4 linked regions of the Homo sapiens genome follow. The main gene of each other region encodes a partner of the protein of the gene in region 3 in a complex. Each region holds a gene or a part of one and is shown on either strand. Other genes may lie near its edges.

Region 1 (7,027 bases), on a different chromosome or scaffold from region 3:
CTGGGTCCCCACCCGAATCCGGCCCTGGCCTATGGGCTGCTCTGGGCTGCTCTTTGGTTTGGGTGCCTCTGTGCTGTCTGCAGAGACAGGAGAACTGTCAGTGGCTGGACACTTTCTGACCTGCTTCCAGCGGTGGGAACTGTACAAGCCATGGCGAGTCCTGCCCGGGGACTGTCACCCAGGAGGAAGAGCTCAGACCTGGGCTCTGTGTTCCCCAAGGACCCCAGGTCTCGCTCAGGTCCACAGGGATCTCAAGACTCTGAACAGGAACGTGCATGCTGGCCAGAGGCAAATGCTGCCCAAAGACAGGCTGAGAGTTTCTGTGGGGGCCCCTCTCAGGTGGCATCAGCAAGTGTGCACTGCCCTGTGTGGCTGTGCAGGCCCCGTCCCCCTCCCCAGGCTGGGTCTCTGTGTTGGCCCCACCCCTCCCCAGGCTGGGTCTCTGTGCTGGCCCCACCCCTCCCCAGTACCTCGGCGGGGCGGCAGGGAGGCTGTGAGCAAGGAGTGGAAAGTCTGGCCTCCGGAGGCGCCGCGCTCATGCTGGACCTCCACCAGGTGGGCCATGTAATCTGCAAACCGTAGCAGGGTCACACCTGGGCGCGGCCAGGGGCCAGGGAGCAGGTCCTTCCCTCTCCACAGAAACCAGAGTTGGAGATGCCCCCACCGTCACCAGCACTTCCCAAGGACTTCAGAAGCTGGGTGAGCTCAGTCAGCACTGAGGCCCCAACAGCTCCCTCCAAGCTCAAAACACGGCCCTAGGGGGTGCCTGGCCCCAGGGTTGGGGCAGGCCCAGGCCTCGGCTCCCTCCTGACTGTGCCAGCCTCACCAACCCACAGGTCTAAGCCTGCCCTCGAGTGCCACCCACACCCACCCGACCTCGGATCACCCACCCGCTCGCACCCAGGCCCCAAAAGCCTGGCCGGGCTGGGGCTCGGTCAGCGTGTGTGAACCCACTCCGCAGGTCCCTGGCATCTTACTCTTGTCCATGATGTTCTGCTCCAGAGTCTGGGGGTCGTGGGCCACTGCCTGGTCCAGGAACTGGAGGAGTTTGCTCATGCTGGACACGGGGATGCCAAACGACTGCACGAACAGCAGCAGCTGCTGCGGCTCCAGGTCCTGCAGGGCTGAGGGTGCACGCGCTCCGTAACGCCACCCAAAACCCGGGCAATGCGCACTCGGGACCCCACCCGAGACCTGGGGCTGCCTGTGTGCAGTGACCCCACCCACCTGAGACCCTGGGCCACGTGGGCTCGGTGACCCCACCCAAGACCTGGGGCAGTGCACACTCGGCAGCCCCACCTGAGACCCTGGGCCACGTGGGCTCGGTGACCCCACCCAAGACCTGGGGCAGTGCACACTCGGCAGCCCCACCCGAGACCTGGGGCAGTGCACACTCGGCAGCCCCACCTGAGACCCTGGGCCACGTGGGCTCGGTGACCCCACCCGAGACCTGGGGCCGCACAAGGGGGCAGCGTGTCGGGACCACCTTGCACCCTGGATGGCAGCTGTGTGGGCCCCATCCCCAGGGGTGGGTGGGCGCTCCAGAGGGCCTATGGTGGCACGGCGCAGTACACTTCCGAAGCTGCACGCAGGCTGCTGTGACTATCTTCTCTCAGTGCTCAGGGCGCTCTTGCCCCGAAGCCATCGGTGGCTTCCGGGGGCACACAACAGCCTAGACCCCTTGGCAGTCATGGGTTTCCAGAGCCAGCCCCACTCACTCACCAAGCTGCCCCCAGTGTCTCCTCACTGTGAGCAGGCACCAGCCCTACTGACCTACGTGGGCCCAGGCCCCTTGCTCAGTCCTTGCTGGGGTCCCCGGCTGCAGCTCCAACCCCCAAATCCTTCAGGGACCCACCCAGAGGCCCCACCACTTCTCCTCCTCCTCTCCAACCCCAGACCACTTTCTCTTTTTTCCATCGAGGACCTGTTTCTCACTCTAGACCCCTGAGCCTGACAGTAAGACCCTCTCGGACGGGGCCAGCACAGGCTGCCCTAGGTCTCCTCCCAGGGTCCAGCACAGCCTGCTGTGGCCAGGACATATGGTCTGCAGGATCCCCTGAGGCTACCCGGCCAGTCTTCTCCTCTGCCACAGCCGGAGGCTGCCCAGGCCCACAAGGAGCAGGCAAGGGGCCCGGGACCCCTGAGTCAGCAGCCCCTGCCCAAGCCCAGCCTGGACCGTACCGGCGTCCACCAGGCGGAGCACCTCAGAACGGATCATGCGCAGCTTCAGCCAGTCAGGAAGCAGCAGCGCCTCCTCCGATGTGTCCACCAGGAAGGCGGTGGGCAGTGGCTTCTCCTCCGGAAACCAGATGTCCAGCAGCGCCTGGAACTCGCTGTCGTCGGCTTCAGGAAGGACAACGGGTGAGCAGCCTTCAGACCCACCGGGGCCCAGCCCCAAGCACCGCTGGTGCCAAGGCTAGAGGCACCTCCTCTCCCGAGAAGGAAACTGAGACTTGGGAGGAGCACGGGGCTCCTGTGCTAGGTGAGCACTTGCTATGTGCGGATGCTTTGCGTAGGTGCACGCATTTGATCCTCACAGATGCTGCAGGAAGGCAAGCAGCATCACTGCCATTTTGTCGTGGCCAAGGGGACATGTGCGTGTCCCCATCCAGCCCCTGCCCTCGGGGCTTTGCTTGGCTGGACCAGGTCCCATCCAGCTCTCTGGCTCCGCAAAGCCACTGGGAAACCCCACAGGCCCAGGCCCACACAGGGCCAGCTTCTCCGGCTGCCCTTCCCAAGGGCGACGCCTGTGACTGTGTCTGCCTCCCAACAGGGGTCACCACCCACCCACGTCCACCCGAACCCCAGCATGAGGGTTCCGCCCCCTTCCCCCACTGACAGACACAACGGGGTGAACGTGGGAGCAGTTCATGGTGTCAGCCAGGAGTAAAGGGGAAGGCTGCGGCCGCAGAGGGCACGGCTGGGTAGGCGCTGGGTTCCAGACACTGCGCTGGCCAGAGCGTCCTCAGGGTCACTCGCCTGGGCCCCGGGGAGAGGACCCACTTGCCTGGCAGCCTCATGTCGCACCTCCACACGGTGAAATCCCGAGTTTGCCGCCTCCCAGGCACCGCAGGCCTACACGGTTAGGCTGGGGCAGTGAGGACTCTGACCCCAGGCTGTACCAGGCCCTCCAGCTCAGGGCTCTACAGGCTGGGAGGTCCCACCACGTGGGGATCTCCCACACGTCCACCAAGTGCTCAGAGACACGCGGGACGGACTGCAGCCTCCTCTTTAGGAGAGAAGCCAGGACACAGGGTTGAAGGGCTGGGGGGCTTCCCGCCCAGAAGCAAGGCAAGGATGCGGAAGCCGCTGGGTGTGGTCAGGGCTGTGGCCCACCTGGCACGAAGCTGCCCCTCCCGGGGCCTGTGGCGGCTCACCTCGAGGCGGGCCCAGCGTCAGCAGGATCACCATGGCATGGACCACGAGGATGTGCATGGTGGCTGTCTCCCCGCTGCTCCAGCGTAGGAAGACCTGGTCCTGAGACTCCGACTGTGGGAAAAGAGGTGGAGTCAGGCCGTAAGGTTCAGGGACCCTGAGCCAGCGCCGAGGGTACCCAGCTGGCACCGAGCGTGCCGTGCAGCCTCACCCAGCCGTAGACCTCCTCGCCCTCACCCGGCCGTAGACCTCCTCGCCCTCACCCAGCTGTAGACCTCCTCGCCCTCCTTGCTCTGCCGCATGCGCCTCACGTAGCGTGAGAAGATGGACAACAGAGCGCTCAGCACGGCGTCCGACGCGGCACTCGGGGAGAGCTTCGAGAAGAGGTGGGACATGATGGTGGAGCGCTCCACGACCAGCCGGGCCACGTCCTGGTGTGTGGACAGGGGGGCGTCAGAGGCTCCGAGACAGCTCTGCTCTCCGGCCAGCTGGGGTGACCTCGTCGCAGGCACGCTCTCACTGGGATCTTAAGCAGGGCCCGCGGCACCGCAGACCCTCACTCAGCCGCAGGCCGCCAGGGAAGACGACCAGAGCTGGGTCGGACTCTCCAGGGGGGAGGGAGGACACGACTCTCACAGCCAGGGACAATGACCAGGCCCTGAAAGCGGACGCTGCTGCCCTCTGCCCGGCAGCCACCATCTGTTCACCTATCGCTCATTCCCTGAGGACTCGGGCCACCAACTTTCACTAGGTCACAGCGCAGGTTGTGGACAAGAGAACCGTGATGCAAAGTGAGAAGCAGCCCAGCAGAGAAGGACAGCACCCAGGAGAGAAGATGGGAGTCAGCGCCACACATGTGAGCTAGAGATGCTGAGGACAGCGGGCAGGTGCCCAGCGACCTGGGCCCACAGCCCAAACCCTCCTGGCGTCGGGGAGAAGGCTGATGGCTCAGATTCCACCCTGCTGTGAACAAGGCACCCTCACCCCCGTGGCTTCGCATCCTCAGGGTCTGGGGAGAAAGGCTCCAGGGAGTGAGTGGTGACTAAGGAAGGGACACAGGTGGCCACGGGGTCATAGAAGCCCCAGCACAGCAGCCGTGACGGCCCTCCCACCCTCAATGCCTCCCTGTGGCCCAAGAAGCCGCCAGCCCAGGGCACTGCACCACTGGCCCCTTACCCTCCCCAGGGCAGGGTCTCTGTGCTGACCCCGTCCCCTCCCCAGGGCCACACTGCCGGCTGGCCCCGTCCCCTCCCCAGGGCCACACTGCCGGCTGGCCCCGTCCCCTCCCCAGGGCCACACTGCCGGCTGGCCCCGTCCCCTCCCCAGGGCCACACTGCTGGCTGACCCTGCTGCCTCACCAGGGCCAGGTCGCTGTGCTGGGCCTGCTCCTCCACAGGCGTGTGCTGGGACAAGTAGATCAGGTAGGCGCTGATGGTCTGGGGATCAGTCTCCATGTGGATTGCCTGGAGGGGAGGGTGGTCTGAGCGGCAACAGGGCAGGGCTGCGGCCCTCTCATCTTTCCCTGCCGCGGCCCCGGTCAGCGCCCTCACCTGCTGCAGGGCCAGGGCTGTGGTGCTCCTGACGCTGTCGAACAGAGGCAGGCGAGGCAGGTCCCGCAGCAGCCACTGATAGCCCTGCAGCACATCTGTGTCCCCCACATCCTCCTCCATGGGGGGCTCCTTCTCCTCCCCGTCCCGCAGGCTGCCCTCCGAAAGCACCAGCGACAAACCCTGTGGCAGACACTCATGAGCTGGGCCGGCTTTCGGCAGTGCAGGCAGGGTCTCACCCTGGCCCCGGGAGCACACGCATGGTGCCCTCAGAGCCCCGAGGAGAATGTGGCGCTTGCTTCCCACGGGAGAGGCCGCAGGTAAAAGGGAAAAACGAGACTGAGCTCTTTCTGTTAAATGCTTCTGTTCAAGTTCCTGAAGCCACTCTGGACCCTCCCGTCACCAGCAAGAAAGGAACACCAGGCAGGCGGCAGGGTCCACCTTCACGTTTCACTAGCGCATCCTTCCTACGCAGGGAAGGAACTTAAAATACAGTCAGAGTGCACTGAACACTCATTTGATTTTTACTTTTCCTTTTTAAGACAGGGTCTCATTCTGTTGCCTAGGCTGGAGTGCAGTGGTGTGATCACAGCTCACTACAGCCTCAAGTGATTCTCCCATCTCAGCCTCCCAAGTGGCTTGGACCACAGGTGCATGCTGCCACACCCAGCTCATTTTTCTCATCTTTTATTTTTTGTAGAGATGGGTATCATTATGTTGCCCAGGCTGGTCTCAAACTCCTGGGCTCAAGTGATCCTCCTGCCTCAGCTTCCCAAGTAGCTGGGAACACAGGCACACACTACCACACCTGGCTAATTTTTTCAGTTTTTGTAGAGAGAGGATCTTCCTGTGTTGCCCAGGCTGGTCTCAAACTCCTGGACTCAAGTGATGCTCCCACCTCGGCCTCCCAAAGTGCTGGGATGACAAGAGCAAGCCACTGCCCCAGGCCTACTCATTTTACTTCTTTATTTTTCATTTATTTATTTTTTTTTTTTTGAGATGGAGTTTCACTTGTTGCCCAGGCTGGAGTACAGTGGCACAATCTTGGCTCACCTCAACCTCCGCCTCCTAGGTACAAGCGAGTCTCCTGCCTCAGCCTCCAGAGTACCTGGGATTACAGGCCCCCTCCACCACGCCCAGCTAATTTTTTCTATTTTTAATAGAGACGGGATTTCACCATGTTGGCCAGGCTGGTCTCCAACTCCTGACCTCAGGTAATCTGCCTGCCTTGGCCTCCCAAAGTGCTGGGATGACAGGCGTGAGCCACCGTGCCCGGTCCCCAGCCTACTCATTTTAAACATGAAGAGCGTGCGCAGAAAGACCCGCCCACCACCTCACCTTCATGGCCAGCACGCGGGAGGCCACCTGGGAGGAGCCGAGGCGCCGCAAGAAGTAGTCCAGCACCTCACACGTGGTCTGCTCATCAGCCTTCGGGCCCAGTAGCAGGTCCTGCAGGCGGCCCAGCAGCTGCCGCTGCTTCTGTTGCCTCTGCAGGGAGGAAGGGGCTCTCAGGGGTGCAGGTGACAGGCCAGGCGGGTAGGACGTGGGGTGCGCGGCTGGTGGGCTCAGGCATGGGTTGCCCTGACAGGGGTGCGGGGTGAGAGGCGGGGGGGCTGAGGGGTGGGCGGCCCTGACCTGCCGCTTCTTGGCCTTCTGCTCCTTGCTCTCGCCCTCGTCGTCCTCCTCCCCGGAAGCAGCATCGTCCACAGCATCGTGCAGCAGGAACTCGCACAGACACTGCACGGGCAGCACGTCCAGGGAGCCCTCGCTGGACTGTACCAGGTCCGCCAGCCAGGGCATGGACTGCGAGGAGGCCTGGGCAGGCGACAGTGGCGCCCGCTCAGCACCTTCCAGGCCCAACACCTGCCGCCAGCCCCCCGGGTGACCGCGGAGCCGGAAAGGGCGACACGCAGCAGCCAGCTCATGGGCCCCGCATCCAGGTGTGTCCTGCCCTCTTCTGGCCACCAAGGCCTCCGGAAGGTTCCGGGCCTCCCAAGACCACCATCTCTACCTCCTGGAGCCTCGGCACTCACCTGCCGCTGGATGATGTGGAGGAGAAAGTCAGGGTTTCGGCTGCGGCACAAGAGGTGCCCGAGGCGGAGGGA
Region 2 (7,027 bases), on a different chromosome or scaffold from region 3:
TTTATTTTTCTGGAAAAAATATTTTTTTTCCAGGAAAAAAACCCAACAGATTCTTTGTCCTGTAGAGTTTTCTACAATCTGGATTTTACTAACGGTATCCCACATGTTTCTCTGTCCCCTGTATTTCCTATAAATTGGTTTGATTACATTGATGTTCAATTTTGGTGTTTGGTTTTTTTTTTTTTGGGTAAGACAACTTCAAAGGCAGTATTGGATACTTCCATCAGGAGTCATATAATATTTTGTTTCCCTTCAGTTAACATGCTGTAAGTATGACCACTATATATAATTGATAAGTCCATTAATTCATTAGGGTTTCCCTACATTCATTCTTGCTCCTCTCTGATAATAGTCCACACACATTACAGTCAACCTGGTCTTCATAAAATGCTAATCAGATTAGGTCACCATCATTTTAAGCCTTTCAGTGGATTCTCACTGTCCTTAGAATAAAGTTGAAAATAGCTTCCAAGACCTTCCATAATCTGGCTTCTATCTTTCAGTTCTCACCTTACCTCATTCCCAACACCCTTGCTATACTGGAATTTTTTAAATTCCCTTAATGTCTTTCTCTTTATGCCTCTGCACATACTATTGCTCCAGCATAAGCAAACGGCACAGCTTTTGGCTTAAGCATTAACTTCTTCAGTTAAGTGCCTTGACTTCATTGACTTAAATCCTCTTGCCAAATGCTTCCAGAATATACTTGACATCTTTTTCGTAACATTCAACATACTTCCAATATCTGTTCAATGACTGACCTTCCTTGCTGATTATAAATGAGGGCAGAGATCACTCCTGTCTTCAGTGGTATACCTCAAAGCACAGCATTATCCAAAATAGCATACATATTTAATAATTAGTTGACTTCAACTGAAATTGAAAACCATCTTTCTGTGGATAGTGATAATGCTCCTTTCGAAAGTATTATTTTGAAAGATTTGCAAATGTATGTTAGAACATAATAGCTAATAAAGCATCATAAATAAGAAATGTTCAAATGTTCATTAAAAAGACATACAAAAATGATTACATGCTCATTTAAACAAATTTTCTATACATTCATTCACTCATTGTACTACTAATCAATTTCCTTCTATAATCTATAACAAAAATATCTTCCTTGAAAAGGAACCAAAAGGCAGCAAATAATGTTTAAGAAAAAAACAATTCTTACTTTTATGAAGAGGAAGAGGTTTAATAAGATCTGGCTGTGCTTGAGTTGTAGGTGCAGGTGGTCCTTTTCCCCCAATATGATTGTTTACAACAGGATTCTGCTGTCTGCCTCTTAGTAGTGGAGACATACACCGACGTCTTTTAGGGATCCCTTGCATATTTGGTTCTCCGGGTCGTTTATGTTTATTTTGAGGTCCAGCCACAAATTCATCTGCTTCATCTATCATCATACCCTTTAGCAAAAAAGAATACAACTTTCTTGAATTTACAAACAATGTTTAAATGGCACAACCAGTGTCAATTCCAATGAAGGTAACTATATTCTGTTCATATTTATTAGATACTCTACCAGGAAAATAGCTTCAGCTTACTTCAGTTAAATTAAGAACTATAAAACTGACAGTGCCTACCATAAACAAATTACATAATAGAACATTTCAAAATTACCTTCTTATCCAGCTTAAAGGGGTTGCCAAATGTATGCAACCTTCGTGGCTGATCAGGATCAAGTTCTCTTAGTGGAGAAGGTACTTGCTTGAGGTATTCCTGGTAGTTCCCCATTTGTGCTATAGGAACACTGTGCACTTGATCTTTCAAAAAGAATACAACAGCAAAAAAAGTTAACCTCCAATTAGTTCTCAAATAATGTTTCCTTATATATGAATGCTACCTAGTGTTATTCTAGACAGTCTTCTTTACCAACATATTCTAAATTTGTTTGGTGCAATTATAACCACTGCGACAAAATATTTTAAAATAAAATTTAAAATACTGATCTCATCATCTAAACAAAACAAAAATTGCCATTAATTTCACACATACATACATTGCCATTAATTCCACACATACAGAAAGTATGTGTGGCCAGGCGCAGTGGCTCATGCCTGTAATCCCAGCACTTCGGGAGGCTGAGGCAGACATCCGGATCACTTGAGGTAAGGAATGAGACCAGCCTGGCCAACATGGCAAAATCCCATCTCTATTAAAAATACAAAAATTAGCAGGGCATGGTGGCACGTGCCTGTAATCCCAGCTACTAGGGAGGCTAAGGAGGAGAATCGCTTGAACCCAGGATGCGGAGGTTGCAGTGAGCCGAGATCACACCACTGCACTCCAGCCTGGGCGACAGAGCAAGGCTCTGACTCAAAAAAAAAAAAAAAAAGTATGTGTGATCTTACCGTGAAAGATGTATCTCTTCTCTTCTGCGCTATTCCAAATAAACAGAATTTAATTATAGTAGAATTTGTAGAAAATGGAAGTACAGTATGGTAAAAAAAAAAAAAAGTCGCATAGCTAACTCTTTTATATAAAATTATTGTTAGAACTCTTAAATCAGAGGTGGCAAACGTTTAAAGTCTCATCTGACTTGATTTATAGTAGGTGCCATGGATAAAGGTGAAGAAGGAATTATCAGAAAATGTCATGAAACTGGCCATCCAGAGTTAAACCATCAGATACTGGTATTATCTCAAGAAAATGATTGAGATAAGAAAAATCACTTATTTTAAGTATACAGTTTGATAAGTGGGTGTGTGTGTGTGTGTGTGTGTGTGTGTGTGTGCGCGCGCGTGCGCGCATGAATGCATGAGAAAAGCTATAAAAGGAAACTAAACTGTTAAGAAAGGTTGTTACCTCTAGGGAAGAGAATTTGGGGCAACAGTGATGGTAGGAAGAAAGGTACAGAATCAGGGATGATTCACCTTTTACTTCATTTGTTTGAACTTACAATAAGAATGTTATAGTACTGTAATAATTCTTTGAAATTTACATCACCATGCTATGCTTTTTCAGACTATAAAGAAAAAAAATTAAAAATACCAGTATTGAAACTATGTTCTAACCTTCGTCCTGTCCTTTCAGAAATCTGCGAGTGCTCTTCAAAAGATTAGATCTCATTCTTGTTAAGTGATCCAAAAGATTTCGTCTTGGTATGTCATAAGCATTTCTAAATGTCTGTGGCTTCAAATCCTATTAAACAACATTCGAGGACAAAATTTATTGTCAAACATAGAATTACAAGAGACTAAAATCTCTAGCCTGCAGCATAGGTTTGGAAATAAGATATATAAACTGGTTAGCTTAAAAAAAATAAAATAAAGACATATGATATAATCTTAATGTACCGGTTCAGGGCCAAAAGATGAAAATTTGGTAGTGAGCTCAACCAAACAATCTCAATTCACCATCTAACTCTAAAGATTTTATTATATATTCTGGATAAAAGAAGTAAACTCATTTAAGTAAAAATCAATCTCCAAATTTTAAAAACTGAAGTTTTTTAAAAAACAGCTTTGATGTGTAATTTATATACCATAAAATCACCTATTTTAAGTATATAGTTTGATGAATGTTAGTAAATTTATAGTTGTGAAACCATCATCATAATCCATTTCCACCATCCCCAAGTTTGTTGTACCCACTTGCAGTCAATCACTATTCCTATCCCCAGGCAACCACGTGACTTGCTTTCTTTCTATGCTCCATTTTATAAATGGAATTTTGCAACGTCTAATCTTTTGTACTTGGCTTCTTTCAATTAGCATGATGTTTTTGAGATTCATTGACATTATTCATGTATCAGTAGTTTGTTCCTTTTTATTCCAGAGTAGTAGTCTATTATATGGACACACCACATCTTCTTTATCTATTCACCAGCTGATGGGCACTTGGACTGTTACAAGTTTTTGGCTATTATGAAAAATGCTGCCATGTTGGCATGCTAAGCCTACAAGTAGAATGACTGATTGTACAGCAAATTTATGTTTACACTTCTTAAGAAAATATCAACTATTTTCTATCAGTAATGTTAGGAGGGTTGCTCCACATTCTCATCAATCCCTGTATTTTTTGTCTTTTAAATTTTATTCATTCTAGCAGTTATGAAGTAGTATCTCGTTATGGTTTTAATTTGCATTTCCCTAATGGCTGATAAGGCTGAGTGTTACTTCATGTTCTTATTTGTATTTGCATATTTTCTTTGGTGAAATGTCTGTTCAAATATTTTGCCCATGTTTGTCCTTTTATTATTGAGTTATATGAATTCTTTATATATTTTGATACAAGTCCTTTATTTGATATGTGCTTTTCTCCCAAGCTGTAGCTTCCCTCTTCATTTTTAATGTTTCTTTTAAAGAGCAAAGTTTATTTTTTATTTTAATGAAATTCAATTTATCAACATTTTTGCTATGTGCTTTTAGAAATCTTTGCTAACTCAACATCACAAAGATTTTTTCCTATGTTTTCTTCTAGAAGTTTATAGTTTTTGTTCTTACATTTAAGATCACGACCACTTCAAATAATATGAGGTAATGGTCAAATTCATTATTTTGCATATGGATATCCAATTGTTCCATTTGTTTAAAAGACTGTCTTCTTATCCACTACCTTATTTTAATATCTTTGTTAAGAATTGACTGTGTGTGTGAGGGCCTACATCTAGACTCAATTCTGTTCCACTAATCTCCTATGTTTATCCTTATGATGGCACCACACTGCATGGATCACTGTAGTAAGTTTTACAATAAGTTTTAAAATCAGATGATATAAGTCTTCCAACTTTATTCTTCTAAAATTGTTTTGGCTATTCCAGGACCTTTACATTTCCATATAAATTTTAGAATCAGCTTGCCTATTTCTACAAAAAGGCTGCTGGGATAAAGATATCTGTAACCATGAGTACTCACAAAGCATTTTTGGATCATGCTGTGGGTCTAATAGGGTCATCAGTTTAAGTACAAAACTATAGTGAATTCTACCATCCACTACTGCAACTTAAAGCAATTTCTAAACCTCTGTTTTCTCATCTATAAAATAAACAAGTTAGTTTACTCTTCATCAATCTATCCATTCATTCACACACCATGTACACTGTTTTAATTCTAGCAGTGACAGTATAATGATCATTAGTCTACAAGAGTACAGAAGTACTCTTTAAAGTCTGGATAAACTGAATGTCAGAGTTAACAGAAAATGTGATTTATCCAGTAACATAACAGAACATAACTAGAGTAGCACTAAATTCATGATTATTACCTTATTCAGCAAAGCAACTTGGAACCCAGTGTATTCCTTCATATTAAGGTCTAGCAGTCTGTGAGGGACATCCTCTGAAATTCCCTGGAGGAGTTGTTGAAAATCTTTCCTATATGCCATTGATAAACCATGTGATCGGCTCCGGACTTTTATTCCAGTCTCCTGTACTACTTTTTTGCCTACAGATCCAATGACTCGATCAGATTCTATTTTGGCCTAAAGTAAAAATAAGTCAGAATTATCTTGATAAAATCTAAATTAATAAATCAGATACTAATGGTTATGATCTTCTATAAATTAAATATATATTTTTTAAGTATATAAGAAGTTAAAAACTCAAGTAGCATAGTTTATGTCAAGTATTGGGTAAATTAAACATAGTTTAAACAACAATGTCTTATGATTTTAAATCATTACAACTCTAAACTTTTGGAGCAGGACAAACACAATTTCAATTTATTATTTTATTTATTAATACCCACTATACCTAAACCATGAAATATAAATGCACACTAAACAAAAATGTGTATTCCCAATTCAGGGGTGACGGTAAATTATTTTTTTAAAATCATCATTATGTAAGACATTTTTACTAGCACATCAATATGGCAAATAATTATGCAGTTCTTCCCTGGAAAGCAAGAAGCAATGTTTTGACTCCTCCCAAACTGCCTTTTGATTTGTAGTTAAGGTAGCAATGTCAGAAGTACTGGAGAAATAATGTATTTCATAGGACATTAATAATTTCACAGTCAGTTAAACTATATACTGCTTGACTACTATAGTATTTATTAATGTGACTTATGGCCAGAATGACAAAATTCAGTGTTTTCTACAAACATTTCAAAGAAACTCCCATTCTGAAAGAAAAATCTGCAGGTTTCAAAACATAAAGAGTTTTTTTTTTCTTTTTTAAGGAAAAATGACTTTCTAATCTAAATTTCTCAAAAGATAAATAATGTTCACATATAGCAAGTCTAGGACCACACTCATGAAGCCATTTTCATAAATTAGGAATTATTATATAATTTTCAAATTAATGTTTCAAAACATAGCACACCATGGATGTGAGACAGAATTATGTAATATATGGCTCTAAAATGTAATATATTAATATAATGGAATTCCATTAGAACCATCAAGAACTAGCTTTTAACCTGTTTAACCATCCTAGCCAAAACCATTCAAAATACTTAATGGCTCACTCTATTTCTTGATATTACCTGTTGACTCAGTTTTTTGAGGTATGAAATGACACTGTAACTAAGTCCATATTCCATACTGTCTGCTATTAGGTTAGGTGCTCCCATCATCCTAACAGCTTTCTTCAAGGGCTATAGGAAAAAAGAAAACATCATTCAATATTAAGCTTATTAAAAACTTATGGTTCCATGTATAGTCTGTCTTAAAATTTTCTCCAAAAAATTATTTCCCCTTCTTTTCCTCAATAAGGAAGTAACACAATCGTATTTATGTTTCAGTAAAATGTTTGTCAGTGGGATGAAAGGCCGTTTGAAGTAGTTAAAAAGGATTAGAGGCCATAATAACTCCCCAAGACAAGAAGGATAAGATACTGGTCTTCCTTGGTACCACTGGGAGAAACTAGGTTTGGAATAAATGGACAGAAGACACATTCTAGAGGTAGCTCTGATAAAACATGGGTAGTAAGTGAAAAACACTCAAGGAAAATGCAAGATTTCTACTTTTGAGTAATTAGCTGCTCAACCACTCACTAGTTATATGATTCTAGATCAGATTATAAATAAGCTCTCTGGCTCTCTGTGGCTTAGTTTCTCATTTGTAAAATGGGGATAATAAC
Region 3 (7,027 bases):
ACTTAACACACATGAACTGCACACTTAAAATGGTTAAGATAATAAATTTTAATTGTTACCACAATTAAGAAATGATTAGCCAGGCATGGTGGCACATGCCTATAGTTCCAGCTACTTAGGAGGCTGAGGTGAGAGGATTGCATAAGCCTGGGAGGTGGAGGTTTCAGTGAACCATGATAGCACCACTGCACTCCAGCCTGGAGTGAGACCTTGTTAGGAAAAAAAAGGGAAAAAAGGGGGGGAAAAGAAAATAAATGTAAATGAAAAAAAAAAAAAAGCAGATAAGAGAGCATCTGACCTAGTGACATTCCTTATCCATTTGGATACTTTACTCAAGTTCTTTTACTTTCTGAAATAATCCCTTAGCACTCCTTCTACTATGACACATAAATGATCTCCTTCACACCTGAGCTAAAAACAGAATTACCTCCAGGGAAGCCTTCTCTAATAATTGTTTCTTCTGACCATTAAAACTGTCTTGGTTCAGGCTTTCATCACCTTTCCCCAAACTTACAGTCTTCTAATTGGTCACTCTAACTCCAGTCCATCCAATTCCTTTATCCTCCATACTTCCCCTCAGAGTGACATTTCTAAAACAAAAACTGACAAGGTAGAATACAAGGCCCTTTAGAATCAGATGCCTTCCAAATCTTCTGGTCTTATCTCTTGATGAGCTCCCAACCTAAAATCTGCACCAGCCAAACTAGCTGCATTTCTTCTAATGTGATAGCCTGTCTCACATCTCCATGCCCATGTTCACGGTTGCTCACAACTAAAATGTCTTTCCCCCTGTCTTCCAACTGGCCAAAATCTATTTCTAGGACTTTTCTCAAGCATCGCTACCACTCTATAATGCATTTCTGGATCCCTGCTTCCAATAATTAATCGCCCCCTTCTTTGAGGCCATATCATAACCTACCCCAGATTTCATAAGACCTGAAACACTGTATTGTTATTAATTCATTTCTTATTTACTCAAGACTCAGATCAGGGATTACATCATCTACATCTCTATTACCAACATGAAGCACAAAGCCTGGCACAGAGTAAGTATTCAGACATGCTGAGCAAATGAAAAAATAAGCAAATGGAAAACTTTAGCACTTACTATCTACATACTACATATATGGTCTGCCGACTACACTGCTAGCCCCTAAAGGACAAAGAACATATCTCACAGCTCTGCATCCTCCATAGCTACTAGCACAGTAGCATAAGTGAAGAATCAATCATGTGAAATAAGTTCAGATACTAATGCCTGATCACAAAAAAAAAGTAGGAAAAAGCAGAAGCCAGAGTAGTTTTATCCACTAAAATATTAACATAAAATACCACATTTCTGGATAGAACAGAAGAAAGGGTAAAAAACACTATGGTCAACAATCTAGAACTGGGTCCATCTGGCATCCCTCCTCATTTCCTTAGGAGCTAGGGTCCACTTGATTAATGCATGCAGCATGGACTGGTTAAAGTGCTTGAGATCTGACATCAGAACACCTGAGTTAAATTTTGCTTTTAGACATGACAAAAGATTATGTTTTTTAAGAGTCTTCGCCACATTTATGCAGCCAACAGACACATGAAAAAATGCTCACCATCACTGGTCATCAGAGAAATGCAAATCAAAACCACAATGAGATACCATCTCACATCAGTTAGAATGGCAATCATTAAAAAGTCAGGCAACAACAGATGCTGGAGAGGATGTGGAGAAATAGGAACACTTTTACACTGTTGGGAGTGTAAATTAGTTCAACCATTGTGGAAGAGAGTGCGGCAATTCCTCAAGGATCTAGAACTAGAAATACCATTTGACCCAGCAATCCCATTACTGGGTATATACCCAAAGGATTATAAATCATGCTACTATAAAGATACATGTGCACGTATGTTTATTGCGGCACTATTCACAAGAGCAAAGACTTGGAAGTAACCCAAATGTCCACCAACGATAGACTGGATTAAGAAAATGTGGCACATATACACCATGGAATACTATGCAGCCATAAAAAAGGATGCGTTCATGTCCTTCGCAGGGAAATGGATGAAGCTGAAAACCATCCTTCTCAGCAAACTATCACAAGGACAGAAAACCAAACACCGCATGTTCTCACTCATAGGTGGGAATTGAACAGTGAGAACACTTGGACACAGGGCGGGAAACATCACACACCGGGGCCTGTTGGGGAGTGGGGGGCTGGGGGAGGGATAGCATTAGGAGAAATACCTAAAGTAAATGATGAGTTAATGGGTGCAGCAAGCCAACATGGCACATGTATACACATGTAACAAACCTGCACGTTGTGCACATGTGCCCTAGAACCTAAAGTATAATAATAAAAAAAGAGTCTTCACCACTTAAAGATATAAATCAAAATTTATGATTAAAATAATATGATGCCAGGAATTTATTTTCATAAGAATCTGGTGGAGAAGGTGAGGGTAAAGAAGTAGAAGTGGATTGGGGAAGAGGGAAAATGAAACAAGTTTGGCCACAAAATGATAATTTTTGAAGCCAGGTAATGGGTACATGGGAATTAATTAAACTATTCTCTTTACTTACATAGTATATATCTGAAATGTTCCATAACAAAAGGTTTTTTAAAAAAAAAACCCAAGTTCAAATCCATACCTTCCATTTACTAGCTGGGTGACCTTGGATACTAAACAGCTCTAAGCTTAGTTCCATATCTGGAATTTAGAGATAACAATGGTGCTGTCACCAGGATTAAATAAAATATTACATATGGAAAGTGCTTTCAAACTCTAACAAGCAATATAATGTTAACTGCTCTAAGAAGTATTATTATAGATGATTATTGGTAACAGATCTTTAATATAATAATAATGGTAGATATTGCTAAGAAAAAGACTAACGGAAAATAGATCACTGAGAGATCGAAAACTTCTTGAGAACAGAAATCCTGATTTTGGTCAGATGTGGTAGCTCACGTCTGTAATCCCAATCCTTTGGGAGGGCCAAGCAGGAGGGTTGCTTGAGCTCAGGAATTCGCGACCAGCCTGGGCAACACAGAGAGACTCCATCTCTACAAAAAAAATTAAAAAGAAAAAATTAGCCGGGAGTGGTGGCATGTGCCTGTGGTCCCAGCTCCTCAGGAGGCTGAGGTGGGAGGATGGCTTGAGCCTGGGAGTCCAGACTTCAGTGGGCAGTGATCACGCCATTGCACTCTAGATTGGGCAACAGAGCAACACTCAAAAAGATGCCAGGCACAGTGGTTCATGCCTGTAATCCCAGCACTTTGGGAGGCTGAGGTAGGTGAATCGCTTGAGCCCAGGAGTTTGAGACCAACCTTGGTAACATGGTGAAACCTCATCTCTATCAAAAATATAAAAATTAGCCAGTCTCATAACCCAGTCTCTAGATAGATAGATACGATTTTTTAAAAAATTTTTTAAAGAAAAGAACAACAAAAAAAGAAAGCCTGATTTTATTCACGTAAAACATAAGTGAAACATTTATAATGTCCCTTCAATGTTCCTAGGAACCTGCCAGGCACTGGGATAGAGACTAATGGATCTGCAGCCTCTGAATTTACGGAGCTCAAAGTCTGAAGGAGATAGACACATATGGCAAACAATTGCAACGCATAAGACTTAACAATTGTGCTAATGGACACCGTCCAGTGCCCAGAACAAAGTCTGATATATATTTGTTGAGTAAAATGTATCACAAAAGCATCAATTAATTCATTTATTCATTCAACAAATATTTATTTTACCAGGCACTGTTCTTGATTCTGTAGAAACAACAATTAAAAAACATAAAAATCCCTGCTCAAGGGAAGCTTATGTTCCTGCATGGGGAAATGGACAAGGAACATAATTAACAAGAAATTATACAGAATATTAGAAGATGGTAATTACTATGGAGAAAACAAAATCAAGGAAGGGGACTAGGAAGTGCGGGGTGGGGATAGGCAGTTTCGATATGAAACAGAAGGGTAAAGGAAGACCTCAATGTAACGGTGACATTTGCATGCTGATAGCTGCAATATGAAGTACAAGTCACCATTTATAACATAGTCTTAAAATTGTCAAAAATATGCTTAACTTAAATCTAACAAAGCCTATAGATCTAACTTTCAGTTCATAGTAAATACAGAGAACAGAGGAACAAGTTAATCCTTAAAGAAGTAAATGAATTCAGAAAACAAGACATTTTACAAAAGAACTGTCTCAGTTTCTTCATCAAATCAATGTCACCAAAATAGTAACTGTTGTAGATTTTTGAAAAGACTGAATGCCATGTGGGGACCTGGTTTGCATTTTGATTTGAATACATCAACTATAAAAAGGTACTGGGAGAACAACTACAGAAATCTAAATATCAACTAATTCTTAGATGACATTAAAGAATTACTTAACTTTATTCATTAGGGTTAGGTGGCTATGTTAAAAAATAAAAAGTCCCTCTACTTTCTCATAGCAGTGAGAAAAAAAAAGAAAACAACAAAAAGGTATCCCTTTTTAATAGATATGTAATGAAATAATTAGAAAAAAATGACATATCTTTTTAAAAATTCAACAAAACAAGGCTGGGCGCGGTGGCTCACACCTGTAATCCCAGCACTTTGGGAGGCCGAGGCAGGTGGATCACCCGAGGTCTGGAATTCGAGACTAGCCTGGCCAACATGGTGAAACCCCATCTCTACTAAAAATACAGAATTAGCTGAGCGTGATGGCGCACTCCTGTAGTCCCAGCTACTTGGGAGGCTGAGGCAGGAGAACTGCTTGAACCCAGGAGTGCTATTACACTCCAGCCTGGGCAACAGAGTGAGACTCATCTCAAAAAAAATAATAACAAAATAAAATAAAATTCAGCGAAAAAATAGAGCAAATTTGGCAAAATACTAATAACTGTTAAATTCTAGGAATGGATATTTGGTAGGTCACTATAGTATTTTATCTACTTTTCCATAAGCTTAACAATTTGGGGGCTGAGTGTGGTGGTTCACACCTGTAATCTCAGCAATTTGGAAGCCCAAGGAGGGTGGATTGCTTGAGCCCAGGAATTCGAGATCAGCCTGTGCAACATAGCAAAGCCCTGTCTCTACAAAAAAAAAAAAAAAATACAAAAATTAGCCAGGCATGCTGCACATGCCTGTAGTCCCAGCTACTCAGAAGGCTGAGGCAGGAGGATCAATTGAGCCTCGGAGGTCGAGGGTACAGTGAGCCGTGATAGCACCACTGCACTCCCGCCTGGGCGAGAAAGCAAGACCCCATCTCAAAAATAATAATAGTAATAATAATAATGATTTTTGGGCTGGGAATGGTAGCTCACGCTTGCAATCCCAGCACTTTGGGAGGCCAGGGTGCATGGATCACTTGAGGTCAGGAGTACAAGACCAGCCTGGCCAACACAGCAAAACCCCACCTCTACTAAAAATACAAAAAAAATTAGCTGGGTGTGGTGTCACACACCTGCGGTCCTAGCCACTCTGGAGGCTGACGCAGGAGAATCACTTAAACCAAAGAGACGGAGGTTGCAGTGAGCCAAGATTGTGCCACCACTATACTCCAGGCTGAGTGACAGACCAAGTCTCAAAAAAAAAAAAAAAAAAAATGCAAAACTTAGCCTGGAGTAGTGGCACGTCTGCAGTCCCACCTACGTGGAAGGCTGAGCCAGGAGAATCACTTAAGCCCAGGAGTTCCAGGCTACAGTGACCTATGATGATGCCACTAAACTCTAGGCTGGGTGACAGTGAGCCTCTGTCTCAAAAACAGTTTTTTTGGCCAGACGCAGTGGCTCACGCCTGTAATCCTAACACTTTGGGAGGCCAAGGTGGCTGCATCACTTAAAGTCAGGAGTTCGAGACCAGCCTGGCCAACATGGCAAAACCCCGTCTCTACTAAAAATACAAAAATTAGCAGGGTGTGGTGGCACGTGCCTGTAATCCCAGCTACTAAGGAGGCTGAGGCAGGAGAATCGCTTGAACCCAGGAGGCAGAGGTTGCAGCGAGCCAAGATTGCACTACTGCACTCCAGCATGGGCAACAGAGCGAGACTCTGTCTCCAAAAAAAAAAAAAAAAAAATGTATTTTTAATTAAAAAAGAGGGCCACTGCAATTAGATATGAGGGCCATGAATTAGGAAAGGAACAGCAGGACCACATTCCAGAGATGAATGGGTCATGATTGATATTTACTCCTCTTTTGTGCTTCCACTGTACTCTGCACATACTGCACTCACAGTAACTTCAGCAGTATGATGCACCTTATCATTGACATGTCTTGTTTCCATCTACTATACACAGTATAACTTTCTGAGGTCAAGATCTGTATCTTTTTTATCTCGGTATCCATAGTACCTAGCACTTGGAAGACACTCAATAAAAGCTTCCTAATGAATACCCTATTTATTTGTAATATTAACCATTCTGCAGACATGATACAACTCCCATGATATACTCCCATCAGATCCTCAAGATTTTCTTACCTTGTAATAATGTTCCAAGAGAATCCTGACTACTCCCTCTACGCTTTCCGCCTCGACAGGCTTCCTGGCAAACTGGAGCAAGTATTGCAAAGCATCTGCTGGGGAGGTAGCTTTACACAGATCTATGTGGAGTGCTGCAGATTTACTTGGTTTTGTTAGTCGGAGTTTCTTAGTAGCAATTTCCTCCTGTGGCTGCAAGGGGTAGAGAAAATCGAAAACACAGAATCTGCAAATTTAACTTTGCCTCATTTGGTGGAAATGATTTTCCATTATACCAAATAATATATTTAGCTGATGGACTTAGGAAAATACAGTATTATAAACCAGAAAGAGTACCGGGTTGGTGACAAGGCCATGAGTCTCAATTTTGCCTTTACCAGTTCCTATGACTTTAGGCAAGTCATTTAATTTCTCCGAGTCTCAGTTTATGTCTCTGTAAAATAGGTATACTTTTTTTTTTTCTTAGAGATGGAGTCTCTCTATGTTGCCCAGGCTGGTCTTAACTCCTGGGCTCAAGCAATCCTGGCACCTCAGCCTCCCAAAGTGCTGGGATTACAAGCATGAGCCACGG
Region 4 (7,027 bases), on a different chromosome or scaffold from region 3:
TCTCATTGCAGTAGGTTCAGTGAGTTCAGATCGACCAAATCAATATGGCTCTACAAAACATACTACCAAATTCATTCCACTGTGGGTGTTGGTATTGTCCAGATAGGGAAACCTATTATTACTAAAGAAAAAAAATTGTTTTAATGGGGTTCTAAAATGGAAGTTTATCTCTTAAAGAACATGAAAAATTTGTTGTGATTAAAAAGCACGCTGCCCTTAGGTTTCTAGCTAGAGTTCATTTCTCTTGATCAGTTTTCAGAAACTACTTTGTTATAGGTTTTTAAAGCCCAGGTCCATTTAATTTTAGCCTTCAGCTGAATATTTTCATCACTAGATTTGTGTAAGAAGAGTGATTTATGCCAGTGTTTCTCAAACTTTAGCATGGATAAGAATCACCTGGAGGTAATGCTTACTAACATTACCAGGTCTCCAAGTGTATTCTAACATGAATATTGGTTGATATTCATTTACATTAATGAGGAAGGCAAATGTGAAATAATGGAGTTAAAACTTAACTCATCCGTCAACAACTAGAACAACTTTTTTGCTGAATTAGGTAATAGTTTAATACTGCATGACTTTGTCTTCAATTTTTTAGTTACACACAATACACGTTTTTGTTTTTCTGTTGTTTTTTGTTGAGACAGGGTCTCACTGTGTTACCCAGGCTGGAGTGCAGTGGCACAATCTTGGCTCACTGCGCTCTCTCCCTCCCAGGTTCAAGCAATCCTCCCACTTCAGCCTCTTGAGTAGCTAAGACTACAGGTGCATGCCACCATGCTTGGCTAATTTTTTTATATTTTGTGGAGACAGCATTTTGCCATGTTGCCCAGGTTGGTCTCAAACTCCTGGACTCAAGTGATCTGCCCACCTTGGCTTCCCAAAGTGCTGGGATTACAGGCATGTGTCACCACACCTGCCCACCACACATTTTTAAGTTTAATCTGCATTATTAACATTTTCTTCAACACTTTACTAAGTCTACACCAGTGATCAACAGACTTTATAAAGAGCCAAATAGTAAGAATTCTAGATTTTGTGTGCCAGATGGTCTCCATTGCAACTATTTAATTCTGCCATGGTAATGTGAACGCAGCCATACATTATAAAATGAATGGGTGTGGCTGTGTTCTAATATAACTGTTTATAAAAAACTATTTATAGGCCTCAGTTTGCTAACCCGTTGTCTAAACAATCAGCATAATAATATATCAAGCCCTGCCACCACTAGATCTGAGGACCCATTCCTCCTTCCTTTTTCTTCTCTTCCCCCCTCAGAGGTAACCACTATTCTGAAATTGTTGTGTATTATTCCCATTTATACTTTTGTACTTTTACATATTATCACAGTAAAATAGACTGCACTCAGCTGCCTTAGTTTTGTTTAGAATGATGGGAAAGTGCCCTCCTTTTGGGGGAGGGGGAATTCCAAGAGCTGCCAAAGTTTATGCATACTATTAATGACAACAAATAACAAGTTATCTATATCAGCAAAGCTATAATACATGAATAAGGAATTGAATTTAAACAGAATGAAAAGACAAGCCACAGACTGAGAGAAAATATTTGCAAATCATATATCTGATAAAGGCCTTGTGCCCAAAATCTATGAAGAACTCTTTTAACTTAGTAATAAAACAAACAGATTCATTTCTTTTAAATGGGCAAAATATTTTATCAAATAGTTTACCAAAGAAGATATATGTATGCCATATGAACACTTGAAAAGCTGCTCAACATCATTAGTTACTGGGGAAATTTAAATTAAATCTAAATGAGATATCACTACATACCTATTAGAACATCTACAATTTAAAAAGAGTAGCCATACAAAGCATTGGTGAGGATGGGAAGGAACTGGAACTCTCTCATATATGCTTGGTGGAAATATAAAATGGTACTGCCACAGTTTGGCAGTTTCTCAAGTAATTAAGCATATATTAATACTTACCATATAACCCACTCCTATTTTTTCTAGAGAAATAAAAACATAGATATATATATAAATACTTGTACATGAATATTCATAACAGCTTTATTTGTAATAGTCCCAAACTGCAGACAACCCAAATATCCATCAATAGGTAAATTGATAAATAAATTGTAGTCTATTCATTCAATGGAATATTATTCAGCAATAAAAAGGAATTAACTATTGATACACTAAACAACATGGATGAATCTCAAAATAAATATGCTGAGTAGAAGAAGCCAGACCAAAAAAGAATATGATTCCATTTATATAAATTTCTAGGAAATGCAAACTAATGTATTGTTACAGAAAACAGATAAGTGATGATGATGATGGGAGACATATTTTTCTATATGCCTGATGATGGGAGACATATTTTTCTTGCTTGATGATGGGAGACATATTTTTCTATAGGGTGTATACCTGTAAGAGAGTAATTACAAAGGGCCACAAGGAAATTTGGAGAGATGATGGATATGTTCATTATGTTGATTGTAGTGATGGTGTCACAGACGTATACATATGTCAAAACTTATCAAATGTTACACTTTAAGTAGGTGTAGTTTGGGCCAGGTGTGGTGGTACACGTCTTTAATCCCAGCACTTTGGGAGGCCGAGGTGGGCGGATCATTTGAGGCCGGAGTTTGAGACCAGTGTGGCCAACATGGTGAAACGCCATCTGTACTGAAACTACAAAAATCAGCCGGGTGTGGTGGTGCACCTGTAGTCCCAGATACACGGGAGGCTGAGGCAGGAGAATCACTTGAACCCAGGAGGCAGAGGTTGCAGTGAGCCAAGACTGTGCCACAGCACTCCACTCCAGCCTGGGCAACAGAGTGAGACTCTGTCCCAAAAAATAAAAATAAAAAAGGTACAGTTTGTATATCAATTATTTCTCAATAAAGCTATTTAACTATTTAAGAAAGGAATATTACATTGGTTATAATGAAATGTCTTAATTTTTAACTGAAAATTGTTTATATTAATGATCTTTTTTTATGATGATCAGTCTAAATATTTAATTACTGGTACCTTTTTTCATCTTTTAGGATGTGGAGCCACCCAAAATTTCAAGCACAAAAAACATTTCCATTAAGCAAGAGCCCAAAATATCATCCAGTCTTCCTTCTGGTAATAATAATGGCAAGGTCCTCACAACTGAAAAGGTAAAGAAGGAAGCTGAAAAGAGACCTGCTGATAAAGTAAGATTTTATTTTAATCTTGTTAAAAGAAAGTAAATTAGTTGTTCCATAAGCAGAAAGAAACAATGTTTTATGCCTATTTCTTTTATATAATAATGGGTATAGGTATATAATAATCAACACTCAGTGAATATATATTGATAGCTATAGATTTTGACTTTTCAAAAAATGAGTAAAATTTACAAATTTTAAAGTTAAGTGGTTAAAAGTTATTGTCAATAAATATTTGAGTCCTAGGGAGTATAGTAACTTTGAGTGTAAACTTTAATCTATGCCTCAGAGATCCTAGATGGAACAGTTGTTAAGAAGAAAAGATAGATACACTTTGGGAGGCCGAGGCAGGTAGACTGCTTGAGCTCAGGAGTTCAAGATCAGCCTGGGCAACATGATGAAACCCCATCTCTACAAAAAATACAAAAATCATCTGGGTGTGGTGGCATGCACCTGTAGTCCCAGCTGTTTGTGGGCGGGTGGGGGGTGGGAGGATTGCTTGAGCCCAGGAGGCAGAGATTGCAGTGAGCGGTGATCGTGCCACTGCACTCCAGCCTGGGTGACAGAGTGAGGCGCTGTCTCAAAAAAAAAGGAAAGCAAGAAAGAAAAGATGGGAAAGAGTATAGATGTAAATGACTAAACATAAACTTTATAGAGTGGTATGCACCTGAACAGTGCCAAAGATGATTCTTGGATTGTCTATTTTTAGATGATTTCTACATATAGTAATTAAGATTTTAGTAGTTAGAAAAAAATACATTTGAAAGATATCTTCAGTAACCCTTGCCCTCAAGATGGAGTATATTATCCCGTATGTTTTCATACTTTTGCTAAATAGTGGCTATTCATAAACTACATTAGATTATTTCTCTGTTTTTAGATCTACATAAGTGAAGCTGGGTGTGGTGGCTCATGCCTGTAATCCCAGCACTTTGGGAGGTCAAGGCAGGAGGATCACTTGAGGTCAGCAGGTCGGGAGTTGGCCACCCTGGCCAACATGGCAAAACCCCCTCTCTACTAAAAATACAAAAATTAGCCAGGTGTGGTGGCGCACACCTGTAGTTCCAGCACCTCAGGAGGCTGAGACGTGAGAATCACTCTAACCCAGCAGGCGGAGGTTACAGTGAGCAGAGATTGTGCCACTGCACTCCAGCCTGGGCAACACTGCAAGACTCTGTCTTAAAAAAAAAATTATGTAAATGTTATCATACTGTGTGTGTGTATATCCTTTGGTAACTTTTTCTCCACTCAACTATGTGCTTTTGAAATGTATCTTTGTTAATGCATGTAGATCTAGATTTCTTTTAGCTACTACATAATACCAGTTTATCATTCCCCTACTGATTTATCATAGGGGAATGATTAACCAGTTTATCATTCCCCTACTGATGCACAATTAGATATTTCTCCTTTGTTTCTATTACAATGGAGTTTGAGTGAGCTACTTTATACATATGTCATGTTAATAGTTTCTATAGGATGTATACCTATAAGTGAATATAATAGGATATGACATCTTCAACATTACTAGGCATTGCCAAATTTCTATCAAAAGTAGATGTACTAAATTTACACTGTCATCAACAAAGTATAAGAATTCCAAATTCCATGTCTTATCAGACTTTTTGATTTTTGCCAAATCTAATGGGTATATTGATAATATTTATATCTTAAAGAAGGGAATCCGAATTTGCTTTGAAGCAAATATGTGTTAAGTCTGTATGGTAGATACTAGTCTAAGTAAATCCATCGATCTTCCATAATTCTTTAGTAGATAGAAGAGTACAAAGAGAAATACAAATATTTGTTAAACTGTTCTGATTTATTTATTTCTATCTTGCTGGTTTCATTTAATATACTAATAAATTCATTGCAATTCTTCTACAGATCTTTAATGTGCACATCTGTCCCTAACTATGTGAATATATCTGTAAAATGGACTTGTTCATTGCCAATTGTCCTTCTCACTCGTCTTTCAGTGACTTAAAGTTTATTCTACCACATTACTTTATCATTTTCTGATGCCTGCTTTTTATAGATGAAATCAGACATCACTGAAGGAGTTGATATTCCAAAGAAACCTAGATTGGAGAAACCAGAAACACAGTCATCTCCCATTACTGTCCAAAGTAGCAAGGATTTACCTATGGCTGACCTTTCCAGTTTTGAGGAGACCAGTGCTGATGATTTTGCCATGGAGATGGGATTGGCCTGCGTTGTTTGTAGGTAAGTTGTACCTTGCCACAGATTCTTTTGTTACTTTATAAAGAACACATGACCCTTTCCACTCCTCAACCCCCAAAATCAGAAAAATTGTTGTGCATTTTCTATTTTGTTTTTACTATTTGGAACTGGGGTGGAGATAAGTAGGTAACTGCCCATATAACAATTTAGCATATTGAAAATTGTCAACTATTTTGTCTTTCCCAACTATGGCTTTTAAATCTGTTATGTTGTAACATTTTCTGCATTTTTGGGTTCCAGAGGGAAAGTGATTATTATATTATGATATATATGCCTTTGATAATCTAAGGCTATGGTGATTGCTTTTTGTGCTGTTGAAATTTATACTTTTTTATACACACATGGCTTCATTCTATTAATCTGATCAGACATTTATTGAGCACCCTATGTGTGCACAGTAATGTGCTAAGGACTGTGGATAATTAGGTCCAGTACTCACCTTTAGGTGACTCATATTAATGAAGAACAACAACAACATACAGCTAACTAATATAAGGGAATTTAATGGAGATACAAAATGTTATGAGGCTGTTGGAAGACTAATCAGAGTCTACTACCTTCTGAGAGAAAGGCAAAAATTATGACGAGAAATGACGAGAAAATAGCCAAATTTAATTAAGGCATTCTATATATTTATTAATGGTTGACCATAAGCTTTAAAAGCTTATGCTTTTGTGCATGCCAAGTGTTGGGGTTTGTTATTTGCTCTTTGGGTTTCTGGGATTTTTTTTCTTTTTAATATACCAAACTTTACCAGAACAACCTGGAAATAACTTTTTTTTTTTTTTTTTTTTTTTGAGACAGAGTCTTACTCTGTCACCAAGGCTGGAGTGCAGTGGCATGATCTTGGCTCACTGCAGCGTCCATCTCCTGGGTTCAAGCGATTCTCCTGCCTCAGCCTCCTGAGTAGTGGGGATTATAGGTGTGTACCACCATGCCCAGCTGATTTTTGTATTTTTAGTAGAGACAGGGTTTCACCGTGTCAGCCAGGCTGGTCTTGAACTCCTGACTTCAAATGATCCGCCTGCCTTGGCCTCCCAAAGTGCTGGGATTACAGGCATGAGCCAGCACACCTGGCCCCTGAAATAACTTTAAATTATGGCATTTAAAAAAGTAGTGTAATGTTTAATGGTATGTTTTCTTAGGCAAATGATGGTGGCATCTGGCAATCAATTAGTAGAATGTCAGGAGTGCCATAATCTCTACCACCGAGATTGTCATAAACCCCAGGTGACAGACAAGGAAGCGAATGACCCTCGCCTGGTGTGGTATTGTGCCCGATGTACCAGACAAATGAAAAGAATGGTAGGAATCATATTTTTCTTTATTTTAAACAGTCTGTCAATGTTTTTGTTGGTATGTGCTTTCAAAACAAAGATTTGAATATTTAAGATATTGAAAAAATAAATAATATAAGCTGATTATTTATTTATATGTATAGTATGTACATGTGATTAATATTTCTATTGCTAAAGACCAGACCATGTTATGTGCATTTTTCTCTTTTTAGTTTTATCTAATTCTAATATAGATAAAACAAGATTGGTGACACACAAATTATGAATATTCCTTACTAGTCTGTCAATGTATTGACAAACATTTTAAAATACCATGCAGC

The links.
Region 1: INTS4 (region 3) and INTS1 share a complex: the UniProt entries of both Homo sapiens proteins name them as parts of the integrator complex.
Region 2: INTS4 (region 3) and INTS6 share a complex: the UniProt entries of both Homo sapiens proteins name them as parts of the integrator complex.
Region 4: INTS4 (region 3) and INTS12 share a complex: the UniProt entries of both Homo sapiens proteins name them as parts of the integrator complex.

Annotation. Positions count from the first base shown.
Region 1 is NC_000007.14:1,480,365-1,487,391, forward strand, and holds part of INTS1 (integrator complex subunit 1), read right to left. Parts: coding exon 6,956-7,027; intron 6,738-6,955; coding exon 6,558-6,737; intron 6,411-6,557; coding exon 6,261-6,410; intron 5,106-6,260; coding exon 4,926-5,105; intron 4,839-4,925; coding exon 4,734-4,838; intron 3,807-4,733; coding exon 3,639-3,806; intron 3,490-3,638; coding exon 3,378-3,489; coding exon of another isoform or gene 3,337-3,377; intron 2,344-3,336; coding exon 2,182-2,343; intron 1,125-2,181; coding exon 978-1,124; intron 570-977; coding exon 471-569; intron 78-470; coding exon 1-77. UniProt on the Homo sapiens protein: Component of the integrator complex, a multiprotein complex that terminates RNA polymerase II (Pol II) transcription in the promoter-proximal region of genes.
Region 2 is NC_000013.11:51,373,031-51,380,057, forward strand, and holds part of INTS6 (integrator complex subunit 6), read right to left. Parts: intron 6,543-7,027; coding exon 6,432-6,542; intron 5,425-6,431; coding exon 5,209-5,424; intron 3,145-5,208; coding exon 3,018-3,144; intron 1,767-3,017; coding exon 1,624-1,766; intron 1,410-1,623; coding exon 1,178-1,409; intron 1-1,177. UniProt on the Homo sapiens protein: Component of the integrator complex, a multiprotein complex that terminates RNA polymerase II (Pol II) transcription in the promoter-proximal region of genes.
Region 3 is NC_000011.10:77,984,652-77,991,678, forward strand, and holds part of INTS4 (integrator complex subunit 4), read right to left. Parts: intron 6,649-7,027; coding exon 6,457-6,648; intron 1-6,456. UniProt on the Homo sapiens protein: Component of the integrator complex, a multiprotein complex that terminates RNA polymerase II (Pol II) transcription in the promoter-proximal region of genes.
Region 4 is NC_000004.12:105,691,663-105,698,689, reverse strand, and holds part of INTS12 (integrator complex subunit 12), read left to right. Parts: intron 1-3,021; coding exon 3,022-3,174; intron 3,175-5,203; coding exon 5,204-5,391; intron 5,392-6,554; coding exon 6,555-6,714; intron 6,715-7,027. UniProt on the Homo sapiens protein: Component of the integrator complex, a multiprotein complex that terminates RNA polymerase II (Pol II) transcription in the promoter-proximal region of genes.